Linked DNA regions of Homo sapiens. The protein of the gene in region 2 interacts with the protein of the main gene of each other region in a pairwise test. Each region holds a gene or a part of one and is shown on either strand. Other genes may lie near its edges. The genes, in order: AMER1 and AMER3.

Region 1 (7,559 bases), on a different chromosome or scaffold from region 2:
CTGAGATACCTTAAGCTCTGCATGGTCTGAAATCCCCTTTCTTGCTGGCTGTGATAAATGGACCCTCATTTTCTATCTTTCCCCTACACTCCACAAAAACCCCAGCCCCTATAGTCAAGCCTAATTTAGGTTGCTTCTCTTCCCTTATCTCAATTAAAAGACCGTGTTCCTTGTGATGAGATTATGAAAATTTCCTTTAGAGGAAAAAAGAACAAAAATTCAAAAGCATCTGCAACTCAGGTAGTCACAAGCTTAAAAGAAGGAAAAAAAATCCTATCATTCCGGAGCTCAACACTCTATGGCAGTGTCCACAACAGAACCTTGTTTTGTCTTCTGTTTGCAAATGGATGAATTTTATCACTCCATCAAGGGGATTAGCATTTTTGTCTTTAACCCAAGCTATGGCAGGACAGTTAAAAGGCCCCCATCTGGTCATGATGCCAAAGTCCACAGCGATAGGCTGTGAGACACACGCTACTTGATCCTCTCTAAGGACAGCTAGCTGGGATGAATAGCTTATAGTCATCTGATATAATGATGGCAGCTATGCCAGGCCAAAAGGAATAGGGGTGGGGAGGATCTGTACCATAATTTCACATTGCTAATAGCAAATAAGCCCCACTTCCCCAAGCGGGAGGCAATGCAGACTTGGCTGCTAATCAGTGGTTCATCATTCATTGGGGGAAAGGGGCAGGGGGCACTAAAGGTTTAGCCTGTGTCAAGGATGCATGCTATATATGTGTGTGCATGTGTGTTTGTGTGTGTGTGTGTATGTATGTGTGTGTGTGTGTGTGTGTGTGTGTGTGTATATATATATATATATATATATATATATATATATATATATATAATCACTAACTTGGCAACTGGAATAGGCACAAAATTACAGCATCCCAAACCCAGCGTGGGTCACAAGAAGAAACCTCGAAAGCAAAAACTGGAGTGCAGTAGCAGCAGCAGCCTCCCTGGGCAGATGCACTTGAGTTGAACGTGGCCATAGATGGCAGAAGAGGCAAGTGGGAAAACCAAGGTGAAAACTCACAGGAGTTTTCCTTGGCCCAAAGGGTTTTCAAGTTAAACAACAACCCCCACCCCCCCACCCTTCTGCCCAACCCCTGATCCCCATTCACATGCTCAGGCCCCGTGTCCCTACTCCAGAATTGATAATAACTACTTGGCTAGGTTTCCATTCATGGCAGTGGAGGAGTAGCTGGTGGCAAGAGAGGCACCTTGCTCAGCCCTCTCCTTTGACAGGTCAAGGCTGGAAGGCCCATAGTGAGTGGGCTGAGGCTGGGGGTGCTCAGGCCGGACCCTGGGCAGCTGAGGAATGCCATGGGTGATGCCCACAGGCTTGGCCTGTGGTAGAGGGCTGGGGCTGAAGCCTCCAGAACTGGAAGAGCAACTGGGCTCATCAACAGGCAGCAGCACATCTCGAGGCCTGGCCCTCATGCTCTGGGAGGCCTGTGGCTGGAGGTTATAGCAAGGGCCCATGGGCAGGTGTAGGTGTGAGGGACGAGCTAGTTGAGGCCCAGATTCCCCAGGTGCCCTTGACTCTGGCACTGATAGTGATATTGACATGGTCATAGGAGGTATGCAACAGGTTGCCTGCCTATATGGAGACTGGCTGGAAGGCCTGTCCAACTGGTTGGGGCTTATCCAGGCAGGACCTGGCCCCACTGGAAGAGGACAGGGAGCCCAAGCAGGCCAATCATAGGCCCCTGGGGGTTCAGTATAGAGGGAAAGGGGACTGTCTCGGCTCCATTCTCCTTCTTCCTCCTCTTCGTCCTCCTCATCTGAATCTTCCTGCTGGGCCTGCAGCTCATCAGACTCGAGGTAGCCCTGGACCAAGTGGGAATTGGAGAGCTCCATCTCCAGGGTCTCTGCAGTGTCGAGAGAGCGGCTTCTCCTGTTGAGGGCCATAGCAGCAGGTGGAGGTCGAGGGTGCAGGCCAGGCAGTCCCAAGTATCGAGGGAGGCTGCTCACACCCCAGGGCAGGCCTTGGTAGAATCGACTATGGTAGTTGTTGAAGGCATGTTTGTGATAGTAGCCCAGCTCAAAGGCTTCCAAGGAGGCTGCAAGATCTTCATCATTGTGGAACTCAGGATTCTCTTCACACTTGCCTTCCCCATCCCGTTCCACATCAGCGATGTCAAAGGTCACCATGGGAGGCAGCTCAGGGAGGTTTTGAGTGAAAGATGAGTCAGAGTCAGAGCTGCAGGACATGCTGGAAAAGAGGTTCCCATTGCTGGTGAACTCTACCAGGGCCTGTGAGAAACTCACAGTGGCATTCCCTTCCTTCTCAACCTCCTCTTCCTCTGGATCTTCAGGGGGTGAATAAGTAGGGTAGGCCCTCCTGGGAGATCCTCCAAAATTTGCTTCTTGCATGTCTGGCTCAAACATGGCATCACTCTGGAAGAGCTGCATCAGGCAGGTACTTTGATCTTTCTTGGAGCAGGTTCCTTCATAACGCTTCTCCAGAGGACGGAAGTCCCTCCAGTCTGGCTCGCTGCTTGCAGTGGTGGGGAAAGCTGAGGTAATTCCCCGGTGGGAAATCTGAGAGGTCCCTGATACCCCTGCTGCCAGGCCCATCACTGATGGGCCTAAGGGCCTCATCTGATACTCTAAGACGGGCTTCTCCTGCCGGGCCTGGGTCTCTCGGACTTGAGTCTCTCTACAACGAACCTCTCGGGCCTGGGCTTCTCGGGTTCTGGCCTCCCTGCCATGAGCTTCCCAAGTGTGGGCCTCCCTGGCATAGGCTTCCCTGCCATAAGCCTCTCGAGTATAGGCCTCCCTGGCGTGGGCCTCCCTGGCATGAGCTTCTCGGGCACGTGCCTCCTGGGCCTCAAGCTGCTCCCGCCGAAGCTCCCAATACAACAACTGTTTCTGGATGGTCACTAGCCGTTCTTCCTCTGTCTCCATTGCCCCAGGTGGCCGGGAGGACAAAAAGGGCTCAAAGTTTAAGAAGGGGTCAAACATCTCAGAGCTTCGACCATGGAGGTCATAAAGGCAGTCATCTCCAGGTGGAGAGTTCTCAAGGCTGTCATCTGGCTCATAGAACTCATATAGGGCATCTCCACTGTAGCTGTCTCGGGGTAGACAATCCCTGCGGACAAGCCCCAGGGCCTCACCTGAATCATCCTCAAATCCAGGTGTGGTGGAGTCATAATAACCTTCATCACTATTGGGGGCGGATTCTTGCTGGTCACTCTGAGGAGTCAAAAGTTCCCCAGGGGCTAGGCCAGGATAAGACCTAACTGGGTCAAGGAGCATGTAGCCGTGGTGGCCTGGGGATGTGGTGGGATGGTAGCCCAGGTTCATATTGGGCCGTGGATACATTTGGGCAGTTTCCCACAGATATTCTAAGTCATCATCTTCTTCCTCCTCCTTAACCTCCTCTTCTTCCTCCTCTAATTCCACCTCTTCTTCCTCTTCTTCCTCCTCGTCATCATCATCTGGCAAGGCCATCTCCTCCCCACCTCCTTGGTAGGTCACCAGGCAGGAACTTCGCTTGGTCCCATCTCGGTTTGCTCTCTGGCCCCCAGAGGCCATGCTGTCTGTCATACTGTCCATGTCCTGTTCTGCTATTATGTCACCACAACCTGTCAATGAATCAAAGCTTTTCAGGGATGTCACATCCCCAAACAAGAGGCTCAGTGGGTCCCCCACAGGGCCATTGGGTGGGTTTACCTCTCCTGCTACTACCTTCTCCCCTGTTTCTGGGCTATGGGGCTCCTCTAGGCTACTGGCTTCAGGGGCAGGCTTGGGTTGCACATGTGCTGAGGCACAGGCCTCCATGGGTTTTTCTGGATCTTTACAGGCCATTTTCTCAGTAGCTGGTGGAGAAGGTTCTGGTGTTGGAGAAACTTTTGGCCCAGGGGCATCTTGGGGGTTAGCATTTTCCTTTCTAGGGGCTTGGAAGGTCTCCTCAAAGCAGGGCACCTGAGGGGCTGAGCTCACGTGCTCATGAGGCCTGGCTCTGACCCTCTCAGGCCCCTTGGCCCCTGGCTCACTTTGCTCAGCCCCAGTGACCTTGCTCTTCCGGTGACGGCGGATACTGCTAAAAAAGCCTTTTAGGCCTTTCTTTGGCTTGGGCATAGAGGGAAACTTCTCAGCCACAGCTTTCTCTGTGGCTCCAGCCACAGATGTCTTACATCTGGAGCCTGTCTCCAAAGCCCCATGGGCACTCTGAGAGCTGGGAAATTGGCAGGGTAACTCAGGCAAAGGCAGGGAGAAGCCAGTTCCTTCACTGACAACATCTTCAGGGCCATGGGCTGCTTCACTCAGGCCATCGTGGGTCTTGCTCTTGCTGAGACCTTTCTTGGAGCTGCCTTTCCCAGAACCTTTGCTCCGTCCCCCTCCAAAGAAACTAGGCAGAGTACAGATACCCTTCTTGCCACCAAAGAGTTTCATGGCAGTTTTCTTCAGCCTACCTGGGCCGGATGAGGATGGCTCTGAGGTTGGTCCTTCTGTCGCCTCAGCTGCCTTGTTCTTGGCTCCTTTTTCTGCTGTTTGTTCACGGGTACTCCCAGAGGCTGCAGCTCCCTTGGCCTGAGCAGCTTCATCCTTTTGGGTCTCCATGATGATGGGGACAACTGAGGTACGTCCAGCTGGAAATGCAGCCTCAGGCTTCCAGGCACTGTTATAACATTATCAGTCAGGAAGCATCACAGTGGGGTCTGGAGGAGATAGGAGAGACAAAGACAGAGAGACAGATACTAGTGAGCAAGCATCCAGGCTGGGTTTGCTTTCACCGGACGTCAGGCTTGAGTGGAACAAGAAAGAAAATGATGGAAAATGTGGGGCAAATCTTAATCCACTCGATATGCTTGGCTTGCTGGGCCAGCTCTCTCTGGGCCCCAAGGAAGCAAAACTCTACACTGAGCAACAAGAAGCCTTCATCCCCTACCTTCTTGCTGGGTCCACTCCCTTCAGACCATCCTAAGCTCAGGGGACCACTGGGCAGGGGGACCTGCAGTTGTGTGAAAGGCCTAGTGGTGCTATTGGCTGTGGGAGGTATTATCAATTATCAAAGGGGATGAGGATAGGGAGAGACAAGAAAGGCAAAAGGGATGTTGGCTCCAACATCACAGAATTTTTGAAAACCATCTGGCAAAACAGTCCATTGAGTCCTCACAGGGCTCTGTTGGATTCAAGCTTCAGTTTCATATTAGTCTGGGCTCTCACTGACATTTTGTCTGAGACTGAAAAGTGGACCTGAAGTTTCACCTCCCATCCAAAGCTTCCTAAATTGCCTGCAGAACCATGCTCAGGCTTCAGAATCTCAGAATAGGAGCCTCACACATCCACAAAGTAGGTCTGCAATCTAGAACCTGCTAAGACAATGAAATGGGAGCCTCAAGAAAGGTACTCTCTGGGCTTCAATATTCGCCATTCAAGAGGCCTATCAATATCTCTCCCTCAGAGAGGTGATATGAGGGTGGGTCTAAGCCAGACCCTCTATTGGCTGTCCTGCTGGGAAGATACTTTAATGCGGTCATCAATGGAACCCCAAATTCCACTTGAGAACCATGAGGTGGACTGTTTCTCCTCTACTCTCCTCCTCTTATTATTTTTGTCCCCATCTAGCTCCCTATCTAGGAAGGGAACTCCTTGAAGGCCCTACATGATTCATATTCCTGGTGTGTGAGATAGGTTCCCAATGGCTTTTTAAATAAATAAACCTGGTGCAAGCCACACCCTTCTGGTCAAGGCTCTCAATCCTCCAAATGCCCAAATACCAACAGAGATGGAATAAAAACAAGACCTAGCCACTACCCACCACAATATACCTCTGCACCTCTGGTCATCCGCTAGCTCAGTGACCAGCCTGCTAAAACCCAATGACCCCTCCCTGGGAAGTCCCTCACCAATTTGTCCCCTCTCTGTAGAGTGGCACCAGCAGATGGGGGAATCTGGGAGGAGAGGGGAGAGGGGAAGGGGAAGGGGAGGGAAGGAAGAGTAAGAGAGGGAGAGAGAAGCAAGCACCCTTGGTCCAAGAACAGCTGGACAGTACACCAGGCCTGTGATTGCTTGCCATAATAATAAGACTCACACATTCACCTAAAGTGGAAGACTGTGGACCAGCACTGAGCATGGAAAGAGGCTGGCAGCTACACTCTAGCCTTGGAGCCCCTGGTTCTGTCTTGCAAACATTAATTTTGTGCCTGCTGCCTTGCTTGGCTTGACACTTGAATCATCAGTGTGATGATCCAAGCTTCCATAAAGAACACTCTGCATAACTGAATATTAAAATTGGAGCAAGATAACAGCTGGTTATCCAGAAAAGAAAAGAGCAGGTGAAAAGGAAAGTTCATCTGAACCTCTCTCTGCAGAGATCTGAATTGCCATTTGCTCAGGTTAGAGATTTTTCTGTAACATATTTTGACATCACACTGTTCCAACTCAGCCCTGCAACTGATAGTCCCACAATAGACAGTGCCCCCTCCCACCTCCAAATACACACACAATCACACCTAAACACACAATCACCCAGTTTTCTGCCCCTGGGTCTGGTGGGAATAGGGGCCCTATCATGTCTGAATGCCCCACTTTCCACAGCACATTTTTACCTCAGCCTTAAAATTACTGCTAAGGTTATCGTCACGGTGTTGGGGATAGGGGAGTTGGGGAGGCAGTACTGGAGTTGTTTGTGAAATTCTATTCCCCTCTGGAATTCAGTGCTTCAGGGCAGGACAAGAAGGGAGAACTCCCAGCCTTTGCTTCTAAGGAGCTCCTAGGCTAACAGGGAGAGTCCTATATGTAACAGTCTGTTAGAAACTGGACCAAACAACAGGAAGTGACCGGCAGGCAGGAGGGCAAGGTGAACATTACCTGAGCTCTGCCTTCTGTCAGATCAGCAGAGGCATTAGATTCTCATAGGAGCGTGAACCCTATTGCAAACTGCGCATGCGAAGGATCTAGGGTGCACTCTCCTTATGAGAATCTAACAAATGCCTGATGATCTGAGATGGAACACTTTTATCCCAAAACCTTCCTCCTCTCCATCCATGGAAAAATTGTCTTCCATGAAACAGGTCCCTGGTTCCAAAAAGGTTGGGAACCGCTGCCTTAAAGAATAGCCCCTGTTATTTCTAAAGCTGGTTGGTGGAGTATCATTCTTTATACCTTGTAAACATATTCCAAGATAAATGTGAAAGGGAGAAAGACACTTCTTGGGCAGTAAGGCTGGGCCTCAAGGAAAACCTCACAGCCAAGTGAAAAACTCTAGGACCTACACATCCTTGTGAATCAAAGGCTGACTTGTCCTGCTGGGTTTGGGGCTGGAGTTCCTGGGAACAGAGTGATTTGGCAAATTGAATCACAAAGAAGGCTGCTTTCCAGAGCCTTGACGCCCCAGTTAGAAGACAGTCTCTTTGGGCTTTCCCTTGCCCTTGCTCCTATGCTCTGTGAGGGTAGAGGCCAGCCCACTCACCTCTCTCTGTATTGTCCCCTTTCCTGTCACAGGGAGCTGCAGTGTGTTGTGGAAGGAGCCATGGACCACAGGGCTGGGGTCCAGGCCATGTCAGCCTCCCATCTGCCAAGGGACCCTGAATGGGCCA
Region 2 (7,543 bases):
TTGGAGTAGACAACCCCCAGGTCCAACCAGTTTCAGAACCTATCATTTTGCTAACCCAAGCCTTTTTTTTAAGACAGAGTTTTGCTCTTGTTGACCAGGCTGGAGTGCAATGGCGCGATCAGCTTGCTGCAACCTCCACCTCCCAGGTTCAAGCAACTCTCCGGTCTCAGCCTCCTGAGTAGCTGGAATTACAGGTGCATGCCACCACACCCGGGTAATTTTTGTGTTTTTAGTAGAGACAGGGTTTCACCATATTGGTCAGGCTGGTCTCGAACTCCTGACCTCAGGTGATCCACCCGCCCTCAGCCTCCCAAAGTGCTGGGATTACAGGTGTGAGCCACCGCACCTGGCCCCCAAGCACTTTTATAGGTTAAATGAGATTGTGCCAAATAAACTGTATTTCATTATTTTTTTCCCAGTGTTTAAGGGCATGGTTGTTAATAAGAGTGATAAAAACAAGAAACATAGCTAAGCCAGAGAACCTCCACATAAAATTTTAAAATAAAAGGGTTAGGGCCCGGTGCAGTGGCTCACACCTGTAATCCCAGCACTTTGGGAGGCCGAGGCAGGCGGATCACGAGGTCAAGAGCTCGAGATCATCTTGGCTAACTCAGTGAAAACCCCATCTCTACTAAAAATACAAGTGGCGGGCACCTGTAATCCCAGCTACTCGGGAGGCTGAGGCAGGAGAATGGCGTGAAACAGGGAGGCGGAGCTGGCAGTGAGCCGAGACTGCACCACTGCACTCCAGCCTGGGTGACAGAGCGAGACTCCATCTTAAATAAATAAATAAATAAATAAATAAATAAATAAATGGGTTTGAATGCTTACAAAAGTAGACTGGGACAAAGCTACAGTAATCGAAACAGTGTGGTACAAAGACAGACATACAGACCGATAAAATAGGATAGAGAGCCCAGAAACAAATCCTCAGGTATTTAGTCAAATGATTTTCAACAAGGATGCCAAGACCATTCAATGGAGAAAGGACAGTCTTTTCAACAAATTATGCTGGGAAAACTGAATAGTCACATCAAAAAATGAAACTGGACTCTTACCTTCTGCCATATACAAAAATTAACTAAAAATTGATCGAAGAGCTAAAAGTATAAAACTTTTACAAGAAAACCTAGAAAATCTTTGTGACATTGGATTTTGCAATGATTTATTTGATATGACACCAAAAGTTCAAGAAATAATACACAAAATAAATAACCTGGACTTTATCAAAATTAATGAAAACCACTCATCAAGAGTGACAAGGCAATCCACAGAATGAGAAAAAATATTTGCAAATCATCTACTGGGTAGGGGATTAACATCCAGAATATATAAACAACTCCTAGAACTCAACAATAAAGACAAACAATCTAATTAAAAATGGAGAAAGGACTTGAATAGATACTTCTCCAAAGAATATATACAAATGGCCAATAAGCATATGAAAAGATGCTCAATATCACTAATCATTAGGAAAATACAAATCAAAACCACAATGATATACGACTTCACAGCCATCCTAATGGATGGCTACTATTTATAAACAAATAACAAACAAACAAAAACACACAGAAAACAACATGTTGGCGAGGATATGGAAAAATGCTCTACATTGCTGGTGGGATGTCAAATTGTACACAGTGGAGAACAGTATGATAGTTCCTCAGAAAATTAAACATAGAAACCATTATGACTCCAATATGGCACTTCTGTGGTTTATATTCCAAAGAACCAAAAGCAGGAACCTAAACAGGTATTTGTACATTGCTGCTTATAATAGCATTATTCACAATAGCCAAAGGTGGTGCAACCCAAACGGTCCATTGACAGATGAATGGATAAACAAAATGTGGTCTCTACACACAATGGAATAATATCCACTCTTAAAAAGGAAGGATATTCTGATACATGCTGCAACACGGATACACCCTCAAAACATTATGCTAAGTGAAATAAGCCAGCCACAAAAAGACAGATACTGTATGATTCCACTTCTATGAGGTACCTAGAGTGGTCAAAATCAGAGAAAAGTAGAATAGTGGTTCCCAGCAGCTACGGGGAGAGGAGAATGGAGTTTTAGTGCTTAATGGGTACAGAATTTCTGTTGGGGTCAGGAACGTGTTTTGGCAATAGACTGTGGTGATGGTTGCACAACAGTGTGAGTGTAAATGCCACTGAACTGTACACTTAAAAAGGGGTAAATGGTAAATTTCATATTATGTATATTTTACCACAATAAAGAAAAAGAAACCGGCCGGGCGTGGTGGCTCACGCCTGTAATCCCAGCACTTTGGGAGGCGAGGAGGGCAGATCACCTGAGATTGGGAGTTTGAGGCCAGCCTGACCAACATGGAGAAACCCTGTCTTTACTAAAAATACAAAATTAGCCAGGCGTGGTGCTGCATGCCTGTAATCCCAGCTACTCAGGAGGCTGAGGCAGGAGAATCACTTGAACCCGGGAGGTGGAGGTTGCAGTGAGCCAAGATCACACCATTGAACTCCAGCCTGGGCAAGAAGAGTGAAACTCCATCTCAAAAAATAAGATAAAAATTTTTTTAAGAAAAAGAAACCAACTGTTCACTGTTTGGAAATATGAAATAAAAAAGTTTTTAAATATTGAAAATTTTAAAAGAAAAAGAAACAGCTCAAAGCAGTAGGTCTGATGGTACCCCACAAATGCAGCTGACGTGACTGGCACAGTGGATGGCCGACTCATTTGTGCCCACAGTCAACTCTTTGGCCTGCCAAGAAAGCAAGGGGTGGTGTGGCCAGAAGGTCTGAGACCCTGGGGACAACCAAGTGACCAGAAAGCTAGTTCCAGGAAAGAAAAGGTTTACAGCCACTGCTCAAAAACACAGATGAGAAATCTAAGTCAGTGTTTTGTGTGTGTTTTTTTGTTTGTTTTTTTTTTTTTTTTGAGACAGAGTCTCGCTCTGTCACCCAGGCTGGAGTGCAGTGGCACAATCTCGGCTCACTGCAAGCTCCACCTCCTGGGTTCACGCCATTCTCCTGCCTCAGCCTCCTGAGTAGCTGGGACTACAGGCGCCCACCACCATGCCTGGCTAATTTTTTTTGTACTTTTAGTAGAGAGGGGGTTTTGCCATGTTAGCCAGGATGGTCTTGATCTCCTGACCTTGTGATCCGCCCGTCTGGACCTCCCAAAGTGCTGGGATTACAGGCGTGTAAGTCAGTGTATTGTAAAAATAAAATGTAAGTTCACATTAGAATAATATTTAAGAAAAATCATTCAGTGGTATCTGAACTGGGTAGCCTAGTGTAAAAGATTTTTCCAGGAGTCCCTGGGGAAGACCTGATCCCACATCTTGGGGAAATAAAAAATTTGAAATATATATTTTCATGTTACCCAAAAGTTAGGGGTGTTTGAAAACTGTCTGAAATGACAAAGTAGAAGGGTTGGAACAGTTTGCAGTGGCCGAACGATGACCATGTGAGCATCGAAAATGAGCAATTGTCACTCACTGGAAGAAGCTGAATCTGTAATTATCCTCACAATTACATGATTTTATAAGACACATTAAAAAATCCTTAAATGCAAAAGCGGGGAGAGCCTAATAAGGAAGGCTAATGCTTACTAATTTTAACAAGAGGAGGACTGTGGGGTCTGCGGGAGTCCTACCCCTGACTTGGGGTGTATGTGGCAACGAGGCAGAAACTGCCTTCTGTCCTACCTAAGAGAAAGACAGGGAACTCCCACAGCCAGGATCTGCCAAAAAAGGTCAAGACTACCAGCAACATGGGCGAGGGGGCCTCTGGGGTCACGTTGAGTTAGTCGCTGCATAGAAAGAGGGCTCAAATCTAAAAAATGCAAGAGGGTAGGTCACCCAAGGGTGGGGAAGGTCTTGGCTGGAGGATGAAGGGGCCTCTTGTCTCTGGGGCGAGGCGATGTCAAGGGGAATGACAAACCAAACCAGTCCAAAGCAAGGGGACTCTGTGTCCTGGGTTCTCAGACAAGGTGACCGGGAGGGAGCCCACCAAGCTCAGGGAAAGGCCTGGCCTCCGTCATCCACCTGAGCTCTGCCTTCCCTTCAGCCTTAGCCTCAGCGTGGACCCGGGACTCCTGCATCCTCCCGTCCTGCCCCGCCTGGGCACACCACGGCCGAGAGCCTCCTGTTGGCATCAGCCTCTCCCCAGCACCGACTGTGCGCTCCCGCTCCCCCCTCCTCCCCACAACCCCGCCCCACACTACTGGCACTGCTGCCTGAGCCTTCCTGGAGTTACTTAATCCACCCCAGCCCCAGGCACTGAACCACGCGTGCAGACCCCTCGTCCTCAGTTCTGCGGAGACAGAGTCCCCACAGCATTTCTGCTCCTCCCTCAAGACTGCGGCAGAGCACAGCACCAGTAGACCCCACACAGTGAGTACCTGTAGGGCAAGTGCCTCTTTCGTTCTCTTAATAATAGAGTCAGGTCCCTTCTCCAAGGGAAGACCCTGCCTTGCAGCCCCAGCCTGGCCTGCCCCTTCTTGCAGGCCCGCTCCGAACCCTGGGTAAGACTCGTGACGAGGCTCCGGGTGGCCGAGCCCTTCCGAGAGTGCTGCGGTCGGCAGGGCTGGGCTGGCTCTCTGGGCTGAGGGGGAGGGGCTCCCACACCTGTGCGCTCCCGGAAGAGGGGACAGCGGCGGGGGCGCCGTGCGCACGGGGGCGAGGGGAGACGACTGCACCTGAGGGAGGCGCAGCCGCAACCGGGTGGGAGGCAGAGACACCCAGAAACAGAGACGGGGCGATACGAACAGACAAAGCCGGCTCGAGCGCGGCCCGAGCGGCGGCGCAGGGAGGCGGCAGCCTGGCGGAGCAGCCCCCACCGCGGCCGGCGCGCCCCCTCGCCACCCCTGCGCGCCAGCGCCGGCCCGCCCCTCCCGCTGGCCTCTGGCGGCTTAACCCTCGCCTGCCCGACCCCGCGGGGCCCCTGGAGCCGCGGTGGGTGGGTGCGGGCGCCGGGCCTCCCCCTCCCGGCCGCGGCGCGCGGCGCCGGGAGCTGACCGTGGTGCTGAGCGCGGCTCGCGCTCCGACGCGGTGCCCGAGCCTGTCGCGGCCGCGCCCTGCTGCACTGCGGGCCCCCAGCGGTAAGTCGCCAAGGCCCCGAGAGGCTGCGTTGGTCCTGCCCCGCGGATGTGGACCCCCGGGGAGGGCAAGGATTGGGGAATTTGGTGCATTCTCTGGCGCGATGGACGGGCTGAGGGCAGGAAGCAGGGTCGACACCCTCCACCCAGCGGTTCCCGGCGCAGTCAGGGGCCTGGGAGCGGTGACCCTTTTAGGTCTGGGCTAGGGAAGCGGAGAAACCCTCCGCCGGCGGATGCAGGAGCTGAGGGAGAGCCAATATCGCTGTGAGGCCCATCTCCTTGCCCCTGGGCAGGCCAGGACCGCCCAGAGGCGCCCTCCAAGGAGGTGGGCCAGGACCTTCCCTCCCCAGAGGGCCCTTTGTCTCCCCAGTGTGGGGGTTGGGTGGCTTGGTGGTGCTCTCACCGCAGATTCTATTTCTGTTTTATTCCCCATTCCCACCCCCACCCCAGAGCACGGTCGCTTTCCCTCCGCACAGTGGCCCTCACTCCAGCCCTCCCATGACAAGGCAGCCTACTACTGAGAACGCTATTGCCCCATAGCTCTACCGCCAGCCCAGTTTCCAGAGGTCCCTGGGCCTGCGCTTTTTTATCACCATACACTCCTTTGTATCACACTGCTGTGACTTTCCTGCATACCGGGGAAGGCATAGAAAATACCAAAACTATTAGCCAAACGTTTTTTTGTCTCAAGGCGTTTCTGTGGCATGTGTATTCCTCCAGGGTTTTTATTTTGCTCCATGAAATCAAACACCGGGACACTTTCAGGTTAAGAAAGGAAAAAAAAAGCCACGGAATTACCTTCTCAAAGGAAAAAGAAAAAGCTGGGCAGCTAAGCCTGAGTTGGTCATGTAGAAAAGCAACCAGTAGAATAACTTCATTTGCCCAATTTGCAATAAATCCATGTCTGTGTGTGCCGTGTAAAACACTGTGATGGGAGGTGCACAGACAGAGGAGTCTCTGCCACCACCTTCTCTCCCCTAAACCCTGCTTGGGCTCCTAACTCGCCTCTGTGTCTCCGCTGTCCATTTTCACCTGCATCTTTGAAAGTGAGAATTGGCCCGTCACTTGCCCTGGAAGGTTGGCTCCCTGTGGCTTGCAGATAAAAGCACGGCCCTCGCTGAGACCTCAGGCCGGGTGTGGTGTGTACAGCCCATCTCCAGGCCTCATCCCTCTGGCTTGCTGCTCTGGTCACTTGAGCTGCTTTCAGATCCTTAAATATTCTACTTCTCTTGCTCCTCGGGGCCTTTCTGAAGGGTGTTCTCTCTGCCTGGAATATGTGTCCAATGTCTTTTGCCTGGCTGTCCTCTTCTGTCTTTTAAGTTTGGTTTAAATATCACATCCCTGTAACAGAATTAATTAAGTAAATACATTGTGTGGTCCCTGTTCCCATGGAACTTGCAAGTTCGTCTTAGAGATGAAAGACTCAGCCCAGGGTCCTGGTGTCAATGCTGTCTTAAAAAATGATGCACATAGGCCGGGAGCGGTGGCTTACGCCTGTAATCCTGGTACTTTGGGAGGCCTAGGTGGGAGGATCACAAGGTCAAGAGATCAAGACCATCCTGGCTAACACGGTGAAACCCCGTCTCTACTAAAAGTACAAAAAAAATTAGCCGGGCATGGTGGCGGGTGCCTGTAGTCCCAGCTACTCAGGAGGCTGAGGCAGGAGAATGGTGTGAACCCGCGAGGTGGAGCTTGCAGTGAGCCAAGATCACGCCACTGCACTCCAGCCTGGGCGACAGAGCGAGATTCCATCAAAAAAACAAAACAAAACAAAAAACCCACCATCCTGGCCAACATGATGAAACCCCATCTCTACTAAAATTAAGAAAAAAAAAATTAACTGGGCGTGGTGGTGCGTGCCTGTAGTCCCAGCTATTCAGGAGGCTGAAGCAGGGGAATCGCTTGAACCCAGGAGACGGAGGTTGCAGTGAGCCTTGATCACACCACTGCACTCAAGCCTGGGCAACAGAGGGAGAAAAGAAAGAAGGAAAGAAGGAAAGAGAGAGAGAGAGAAAGGAAAGGAAGGAAGGAAGGAAGGAGAAAGAAAGAAGGAGGGAGGGAAGGAAGGAAAGAAGGAAGGAAGGAAGGAGAGAAGAAAATGATCCACATAAACTGTATCACAGAATTAAAATCTCAGACTCTGCATCCTGTTTAGGGAACTTAGGTGTAAACATTTGACTAAGATATCTCAAATATAAAATAGTTCATTTAACTAAGTAATAGCTCACCGCCTACTATAGTTGGAGTCCTGGACCTTAAAGAATTTTCAATCTCGTTGGGGAGTGCAATCAAGCACCAGAATGAATAGTTGGTGGTTGCTGAGCCCTGCAGACAAGAAGGCACCCGAAGGGTAGGGACGGGTCTGAACCCTCCTTGGGGGAGGGATGTGGCACTTGTGGGAGTGGACCTGTCATGTTTCTTGCTGGGGTTCCACTGACGGGTCTATAGCCACAGGGTTACAAA

Evidence for each region.
Region 1: the proteins of AMER3 (region 2) and AMER1 interact in binary tests that used the Homo sapiens proteins (3 or more experiments, as listed by UniProt).

What each region holds. Positions count from the first base shown.
Region 1 is NC_000023.11:64,188,709-64,196,267, forward strand, and holds part of AMER1 (APC membrane recruitment protein 1), read right to left. Parts: intron 4,677-7,559; 5' UTR 4,579-4,676; coding exon 1,171-4,578; 3' UTR 1-1,170. UniProt on the Homo sapiens protein: Regulator of the canonical Wnt signaling pathway.
Region 2 is NC_000002.12:130,751,299-130,758,841, forward strand, and holds the start of AMER3 (APC membrane recruitment protein 3), read left to right. Parts: upstream 1-4,241; 5' UTR 4,242-4,376; exon of another isoform or gene 4,377-4,584; intron 4,585-5,045; exon of another isoform or gene 5,046-5,083; intron 5,084-7,543. UniProt on the Homo sapiens protein: Regulator of the canonical Wnt signaling pathway. Acts by specifically binding phosphatidylinositol 4,5-bisphosphate (PtdIns(4,5)P2), translocating to the cell membrane.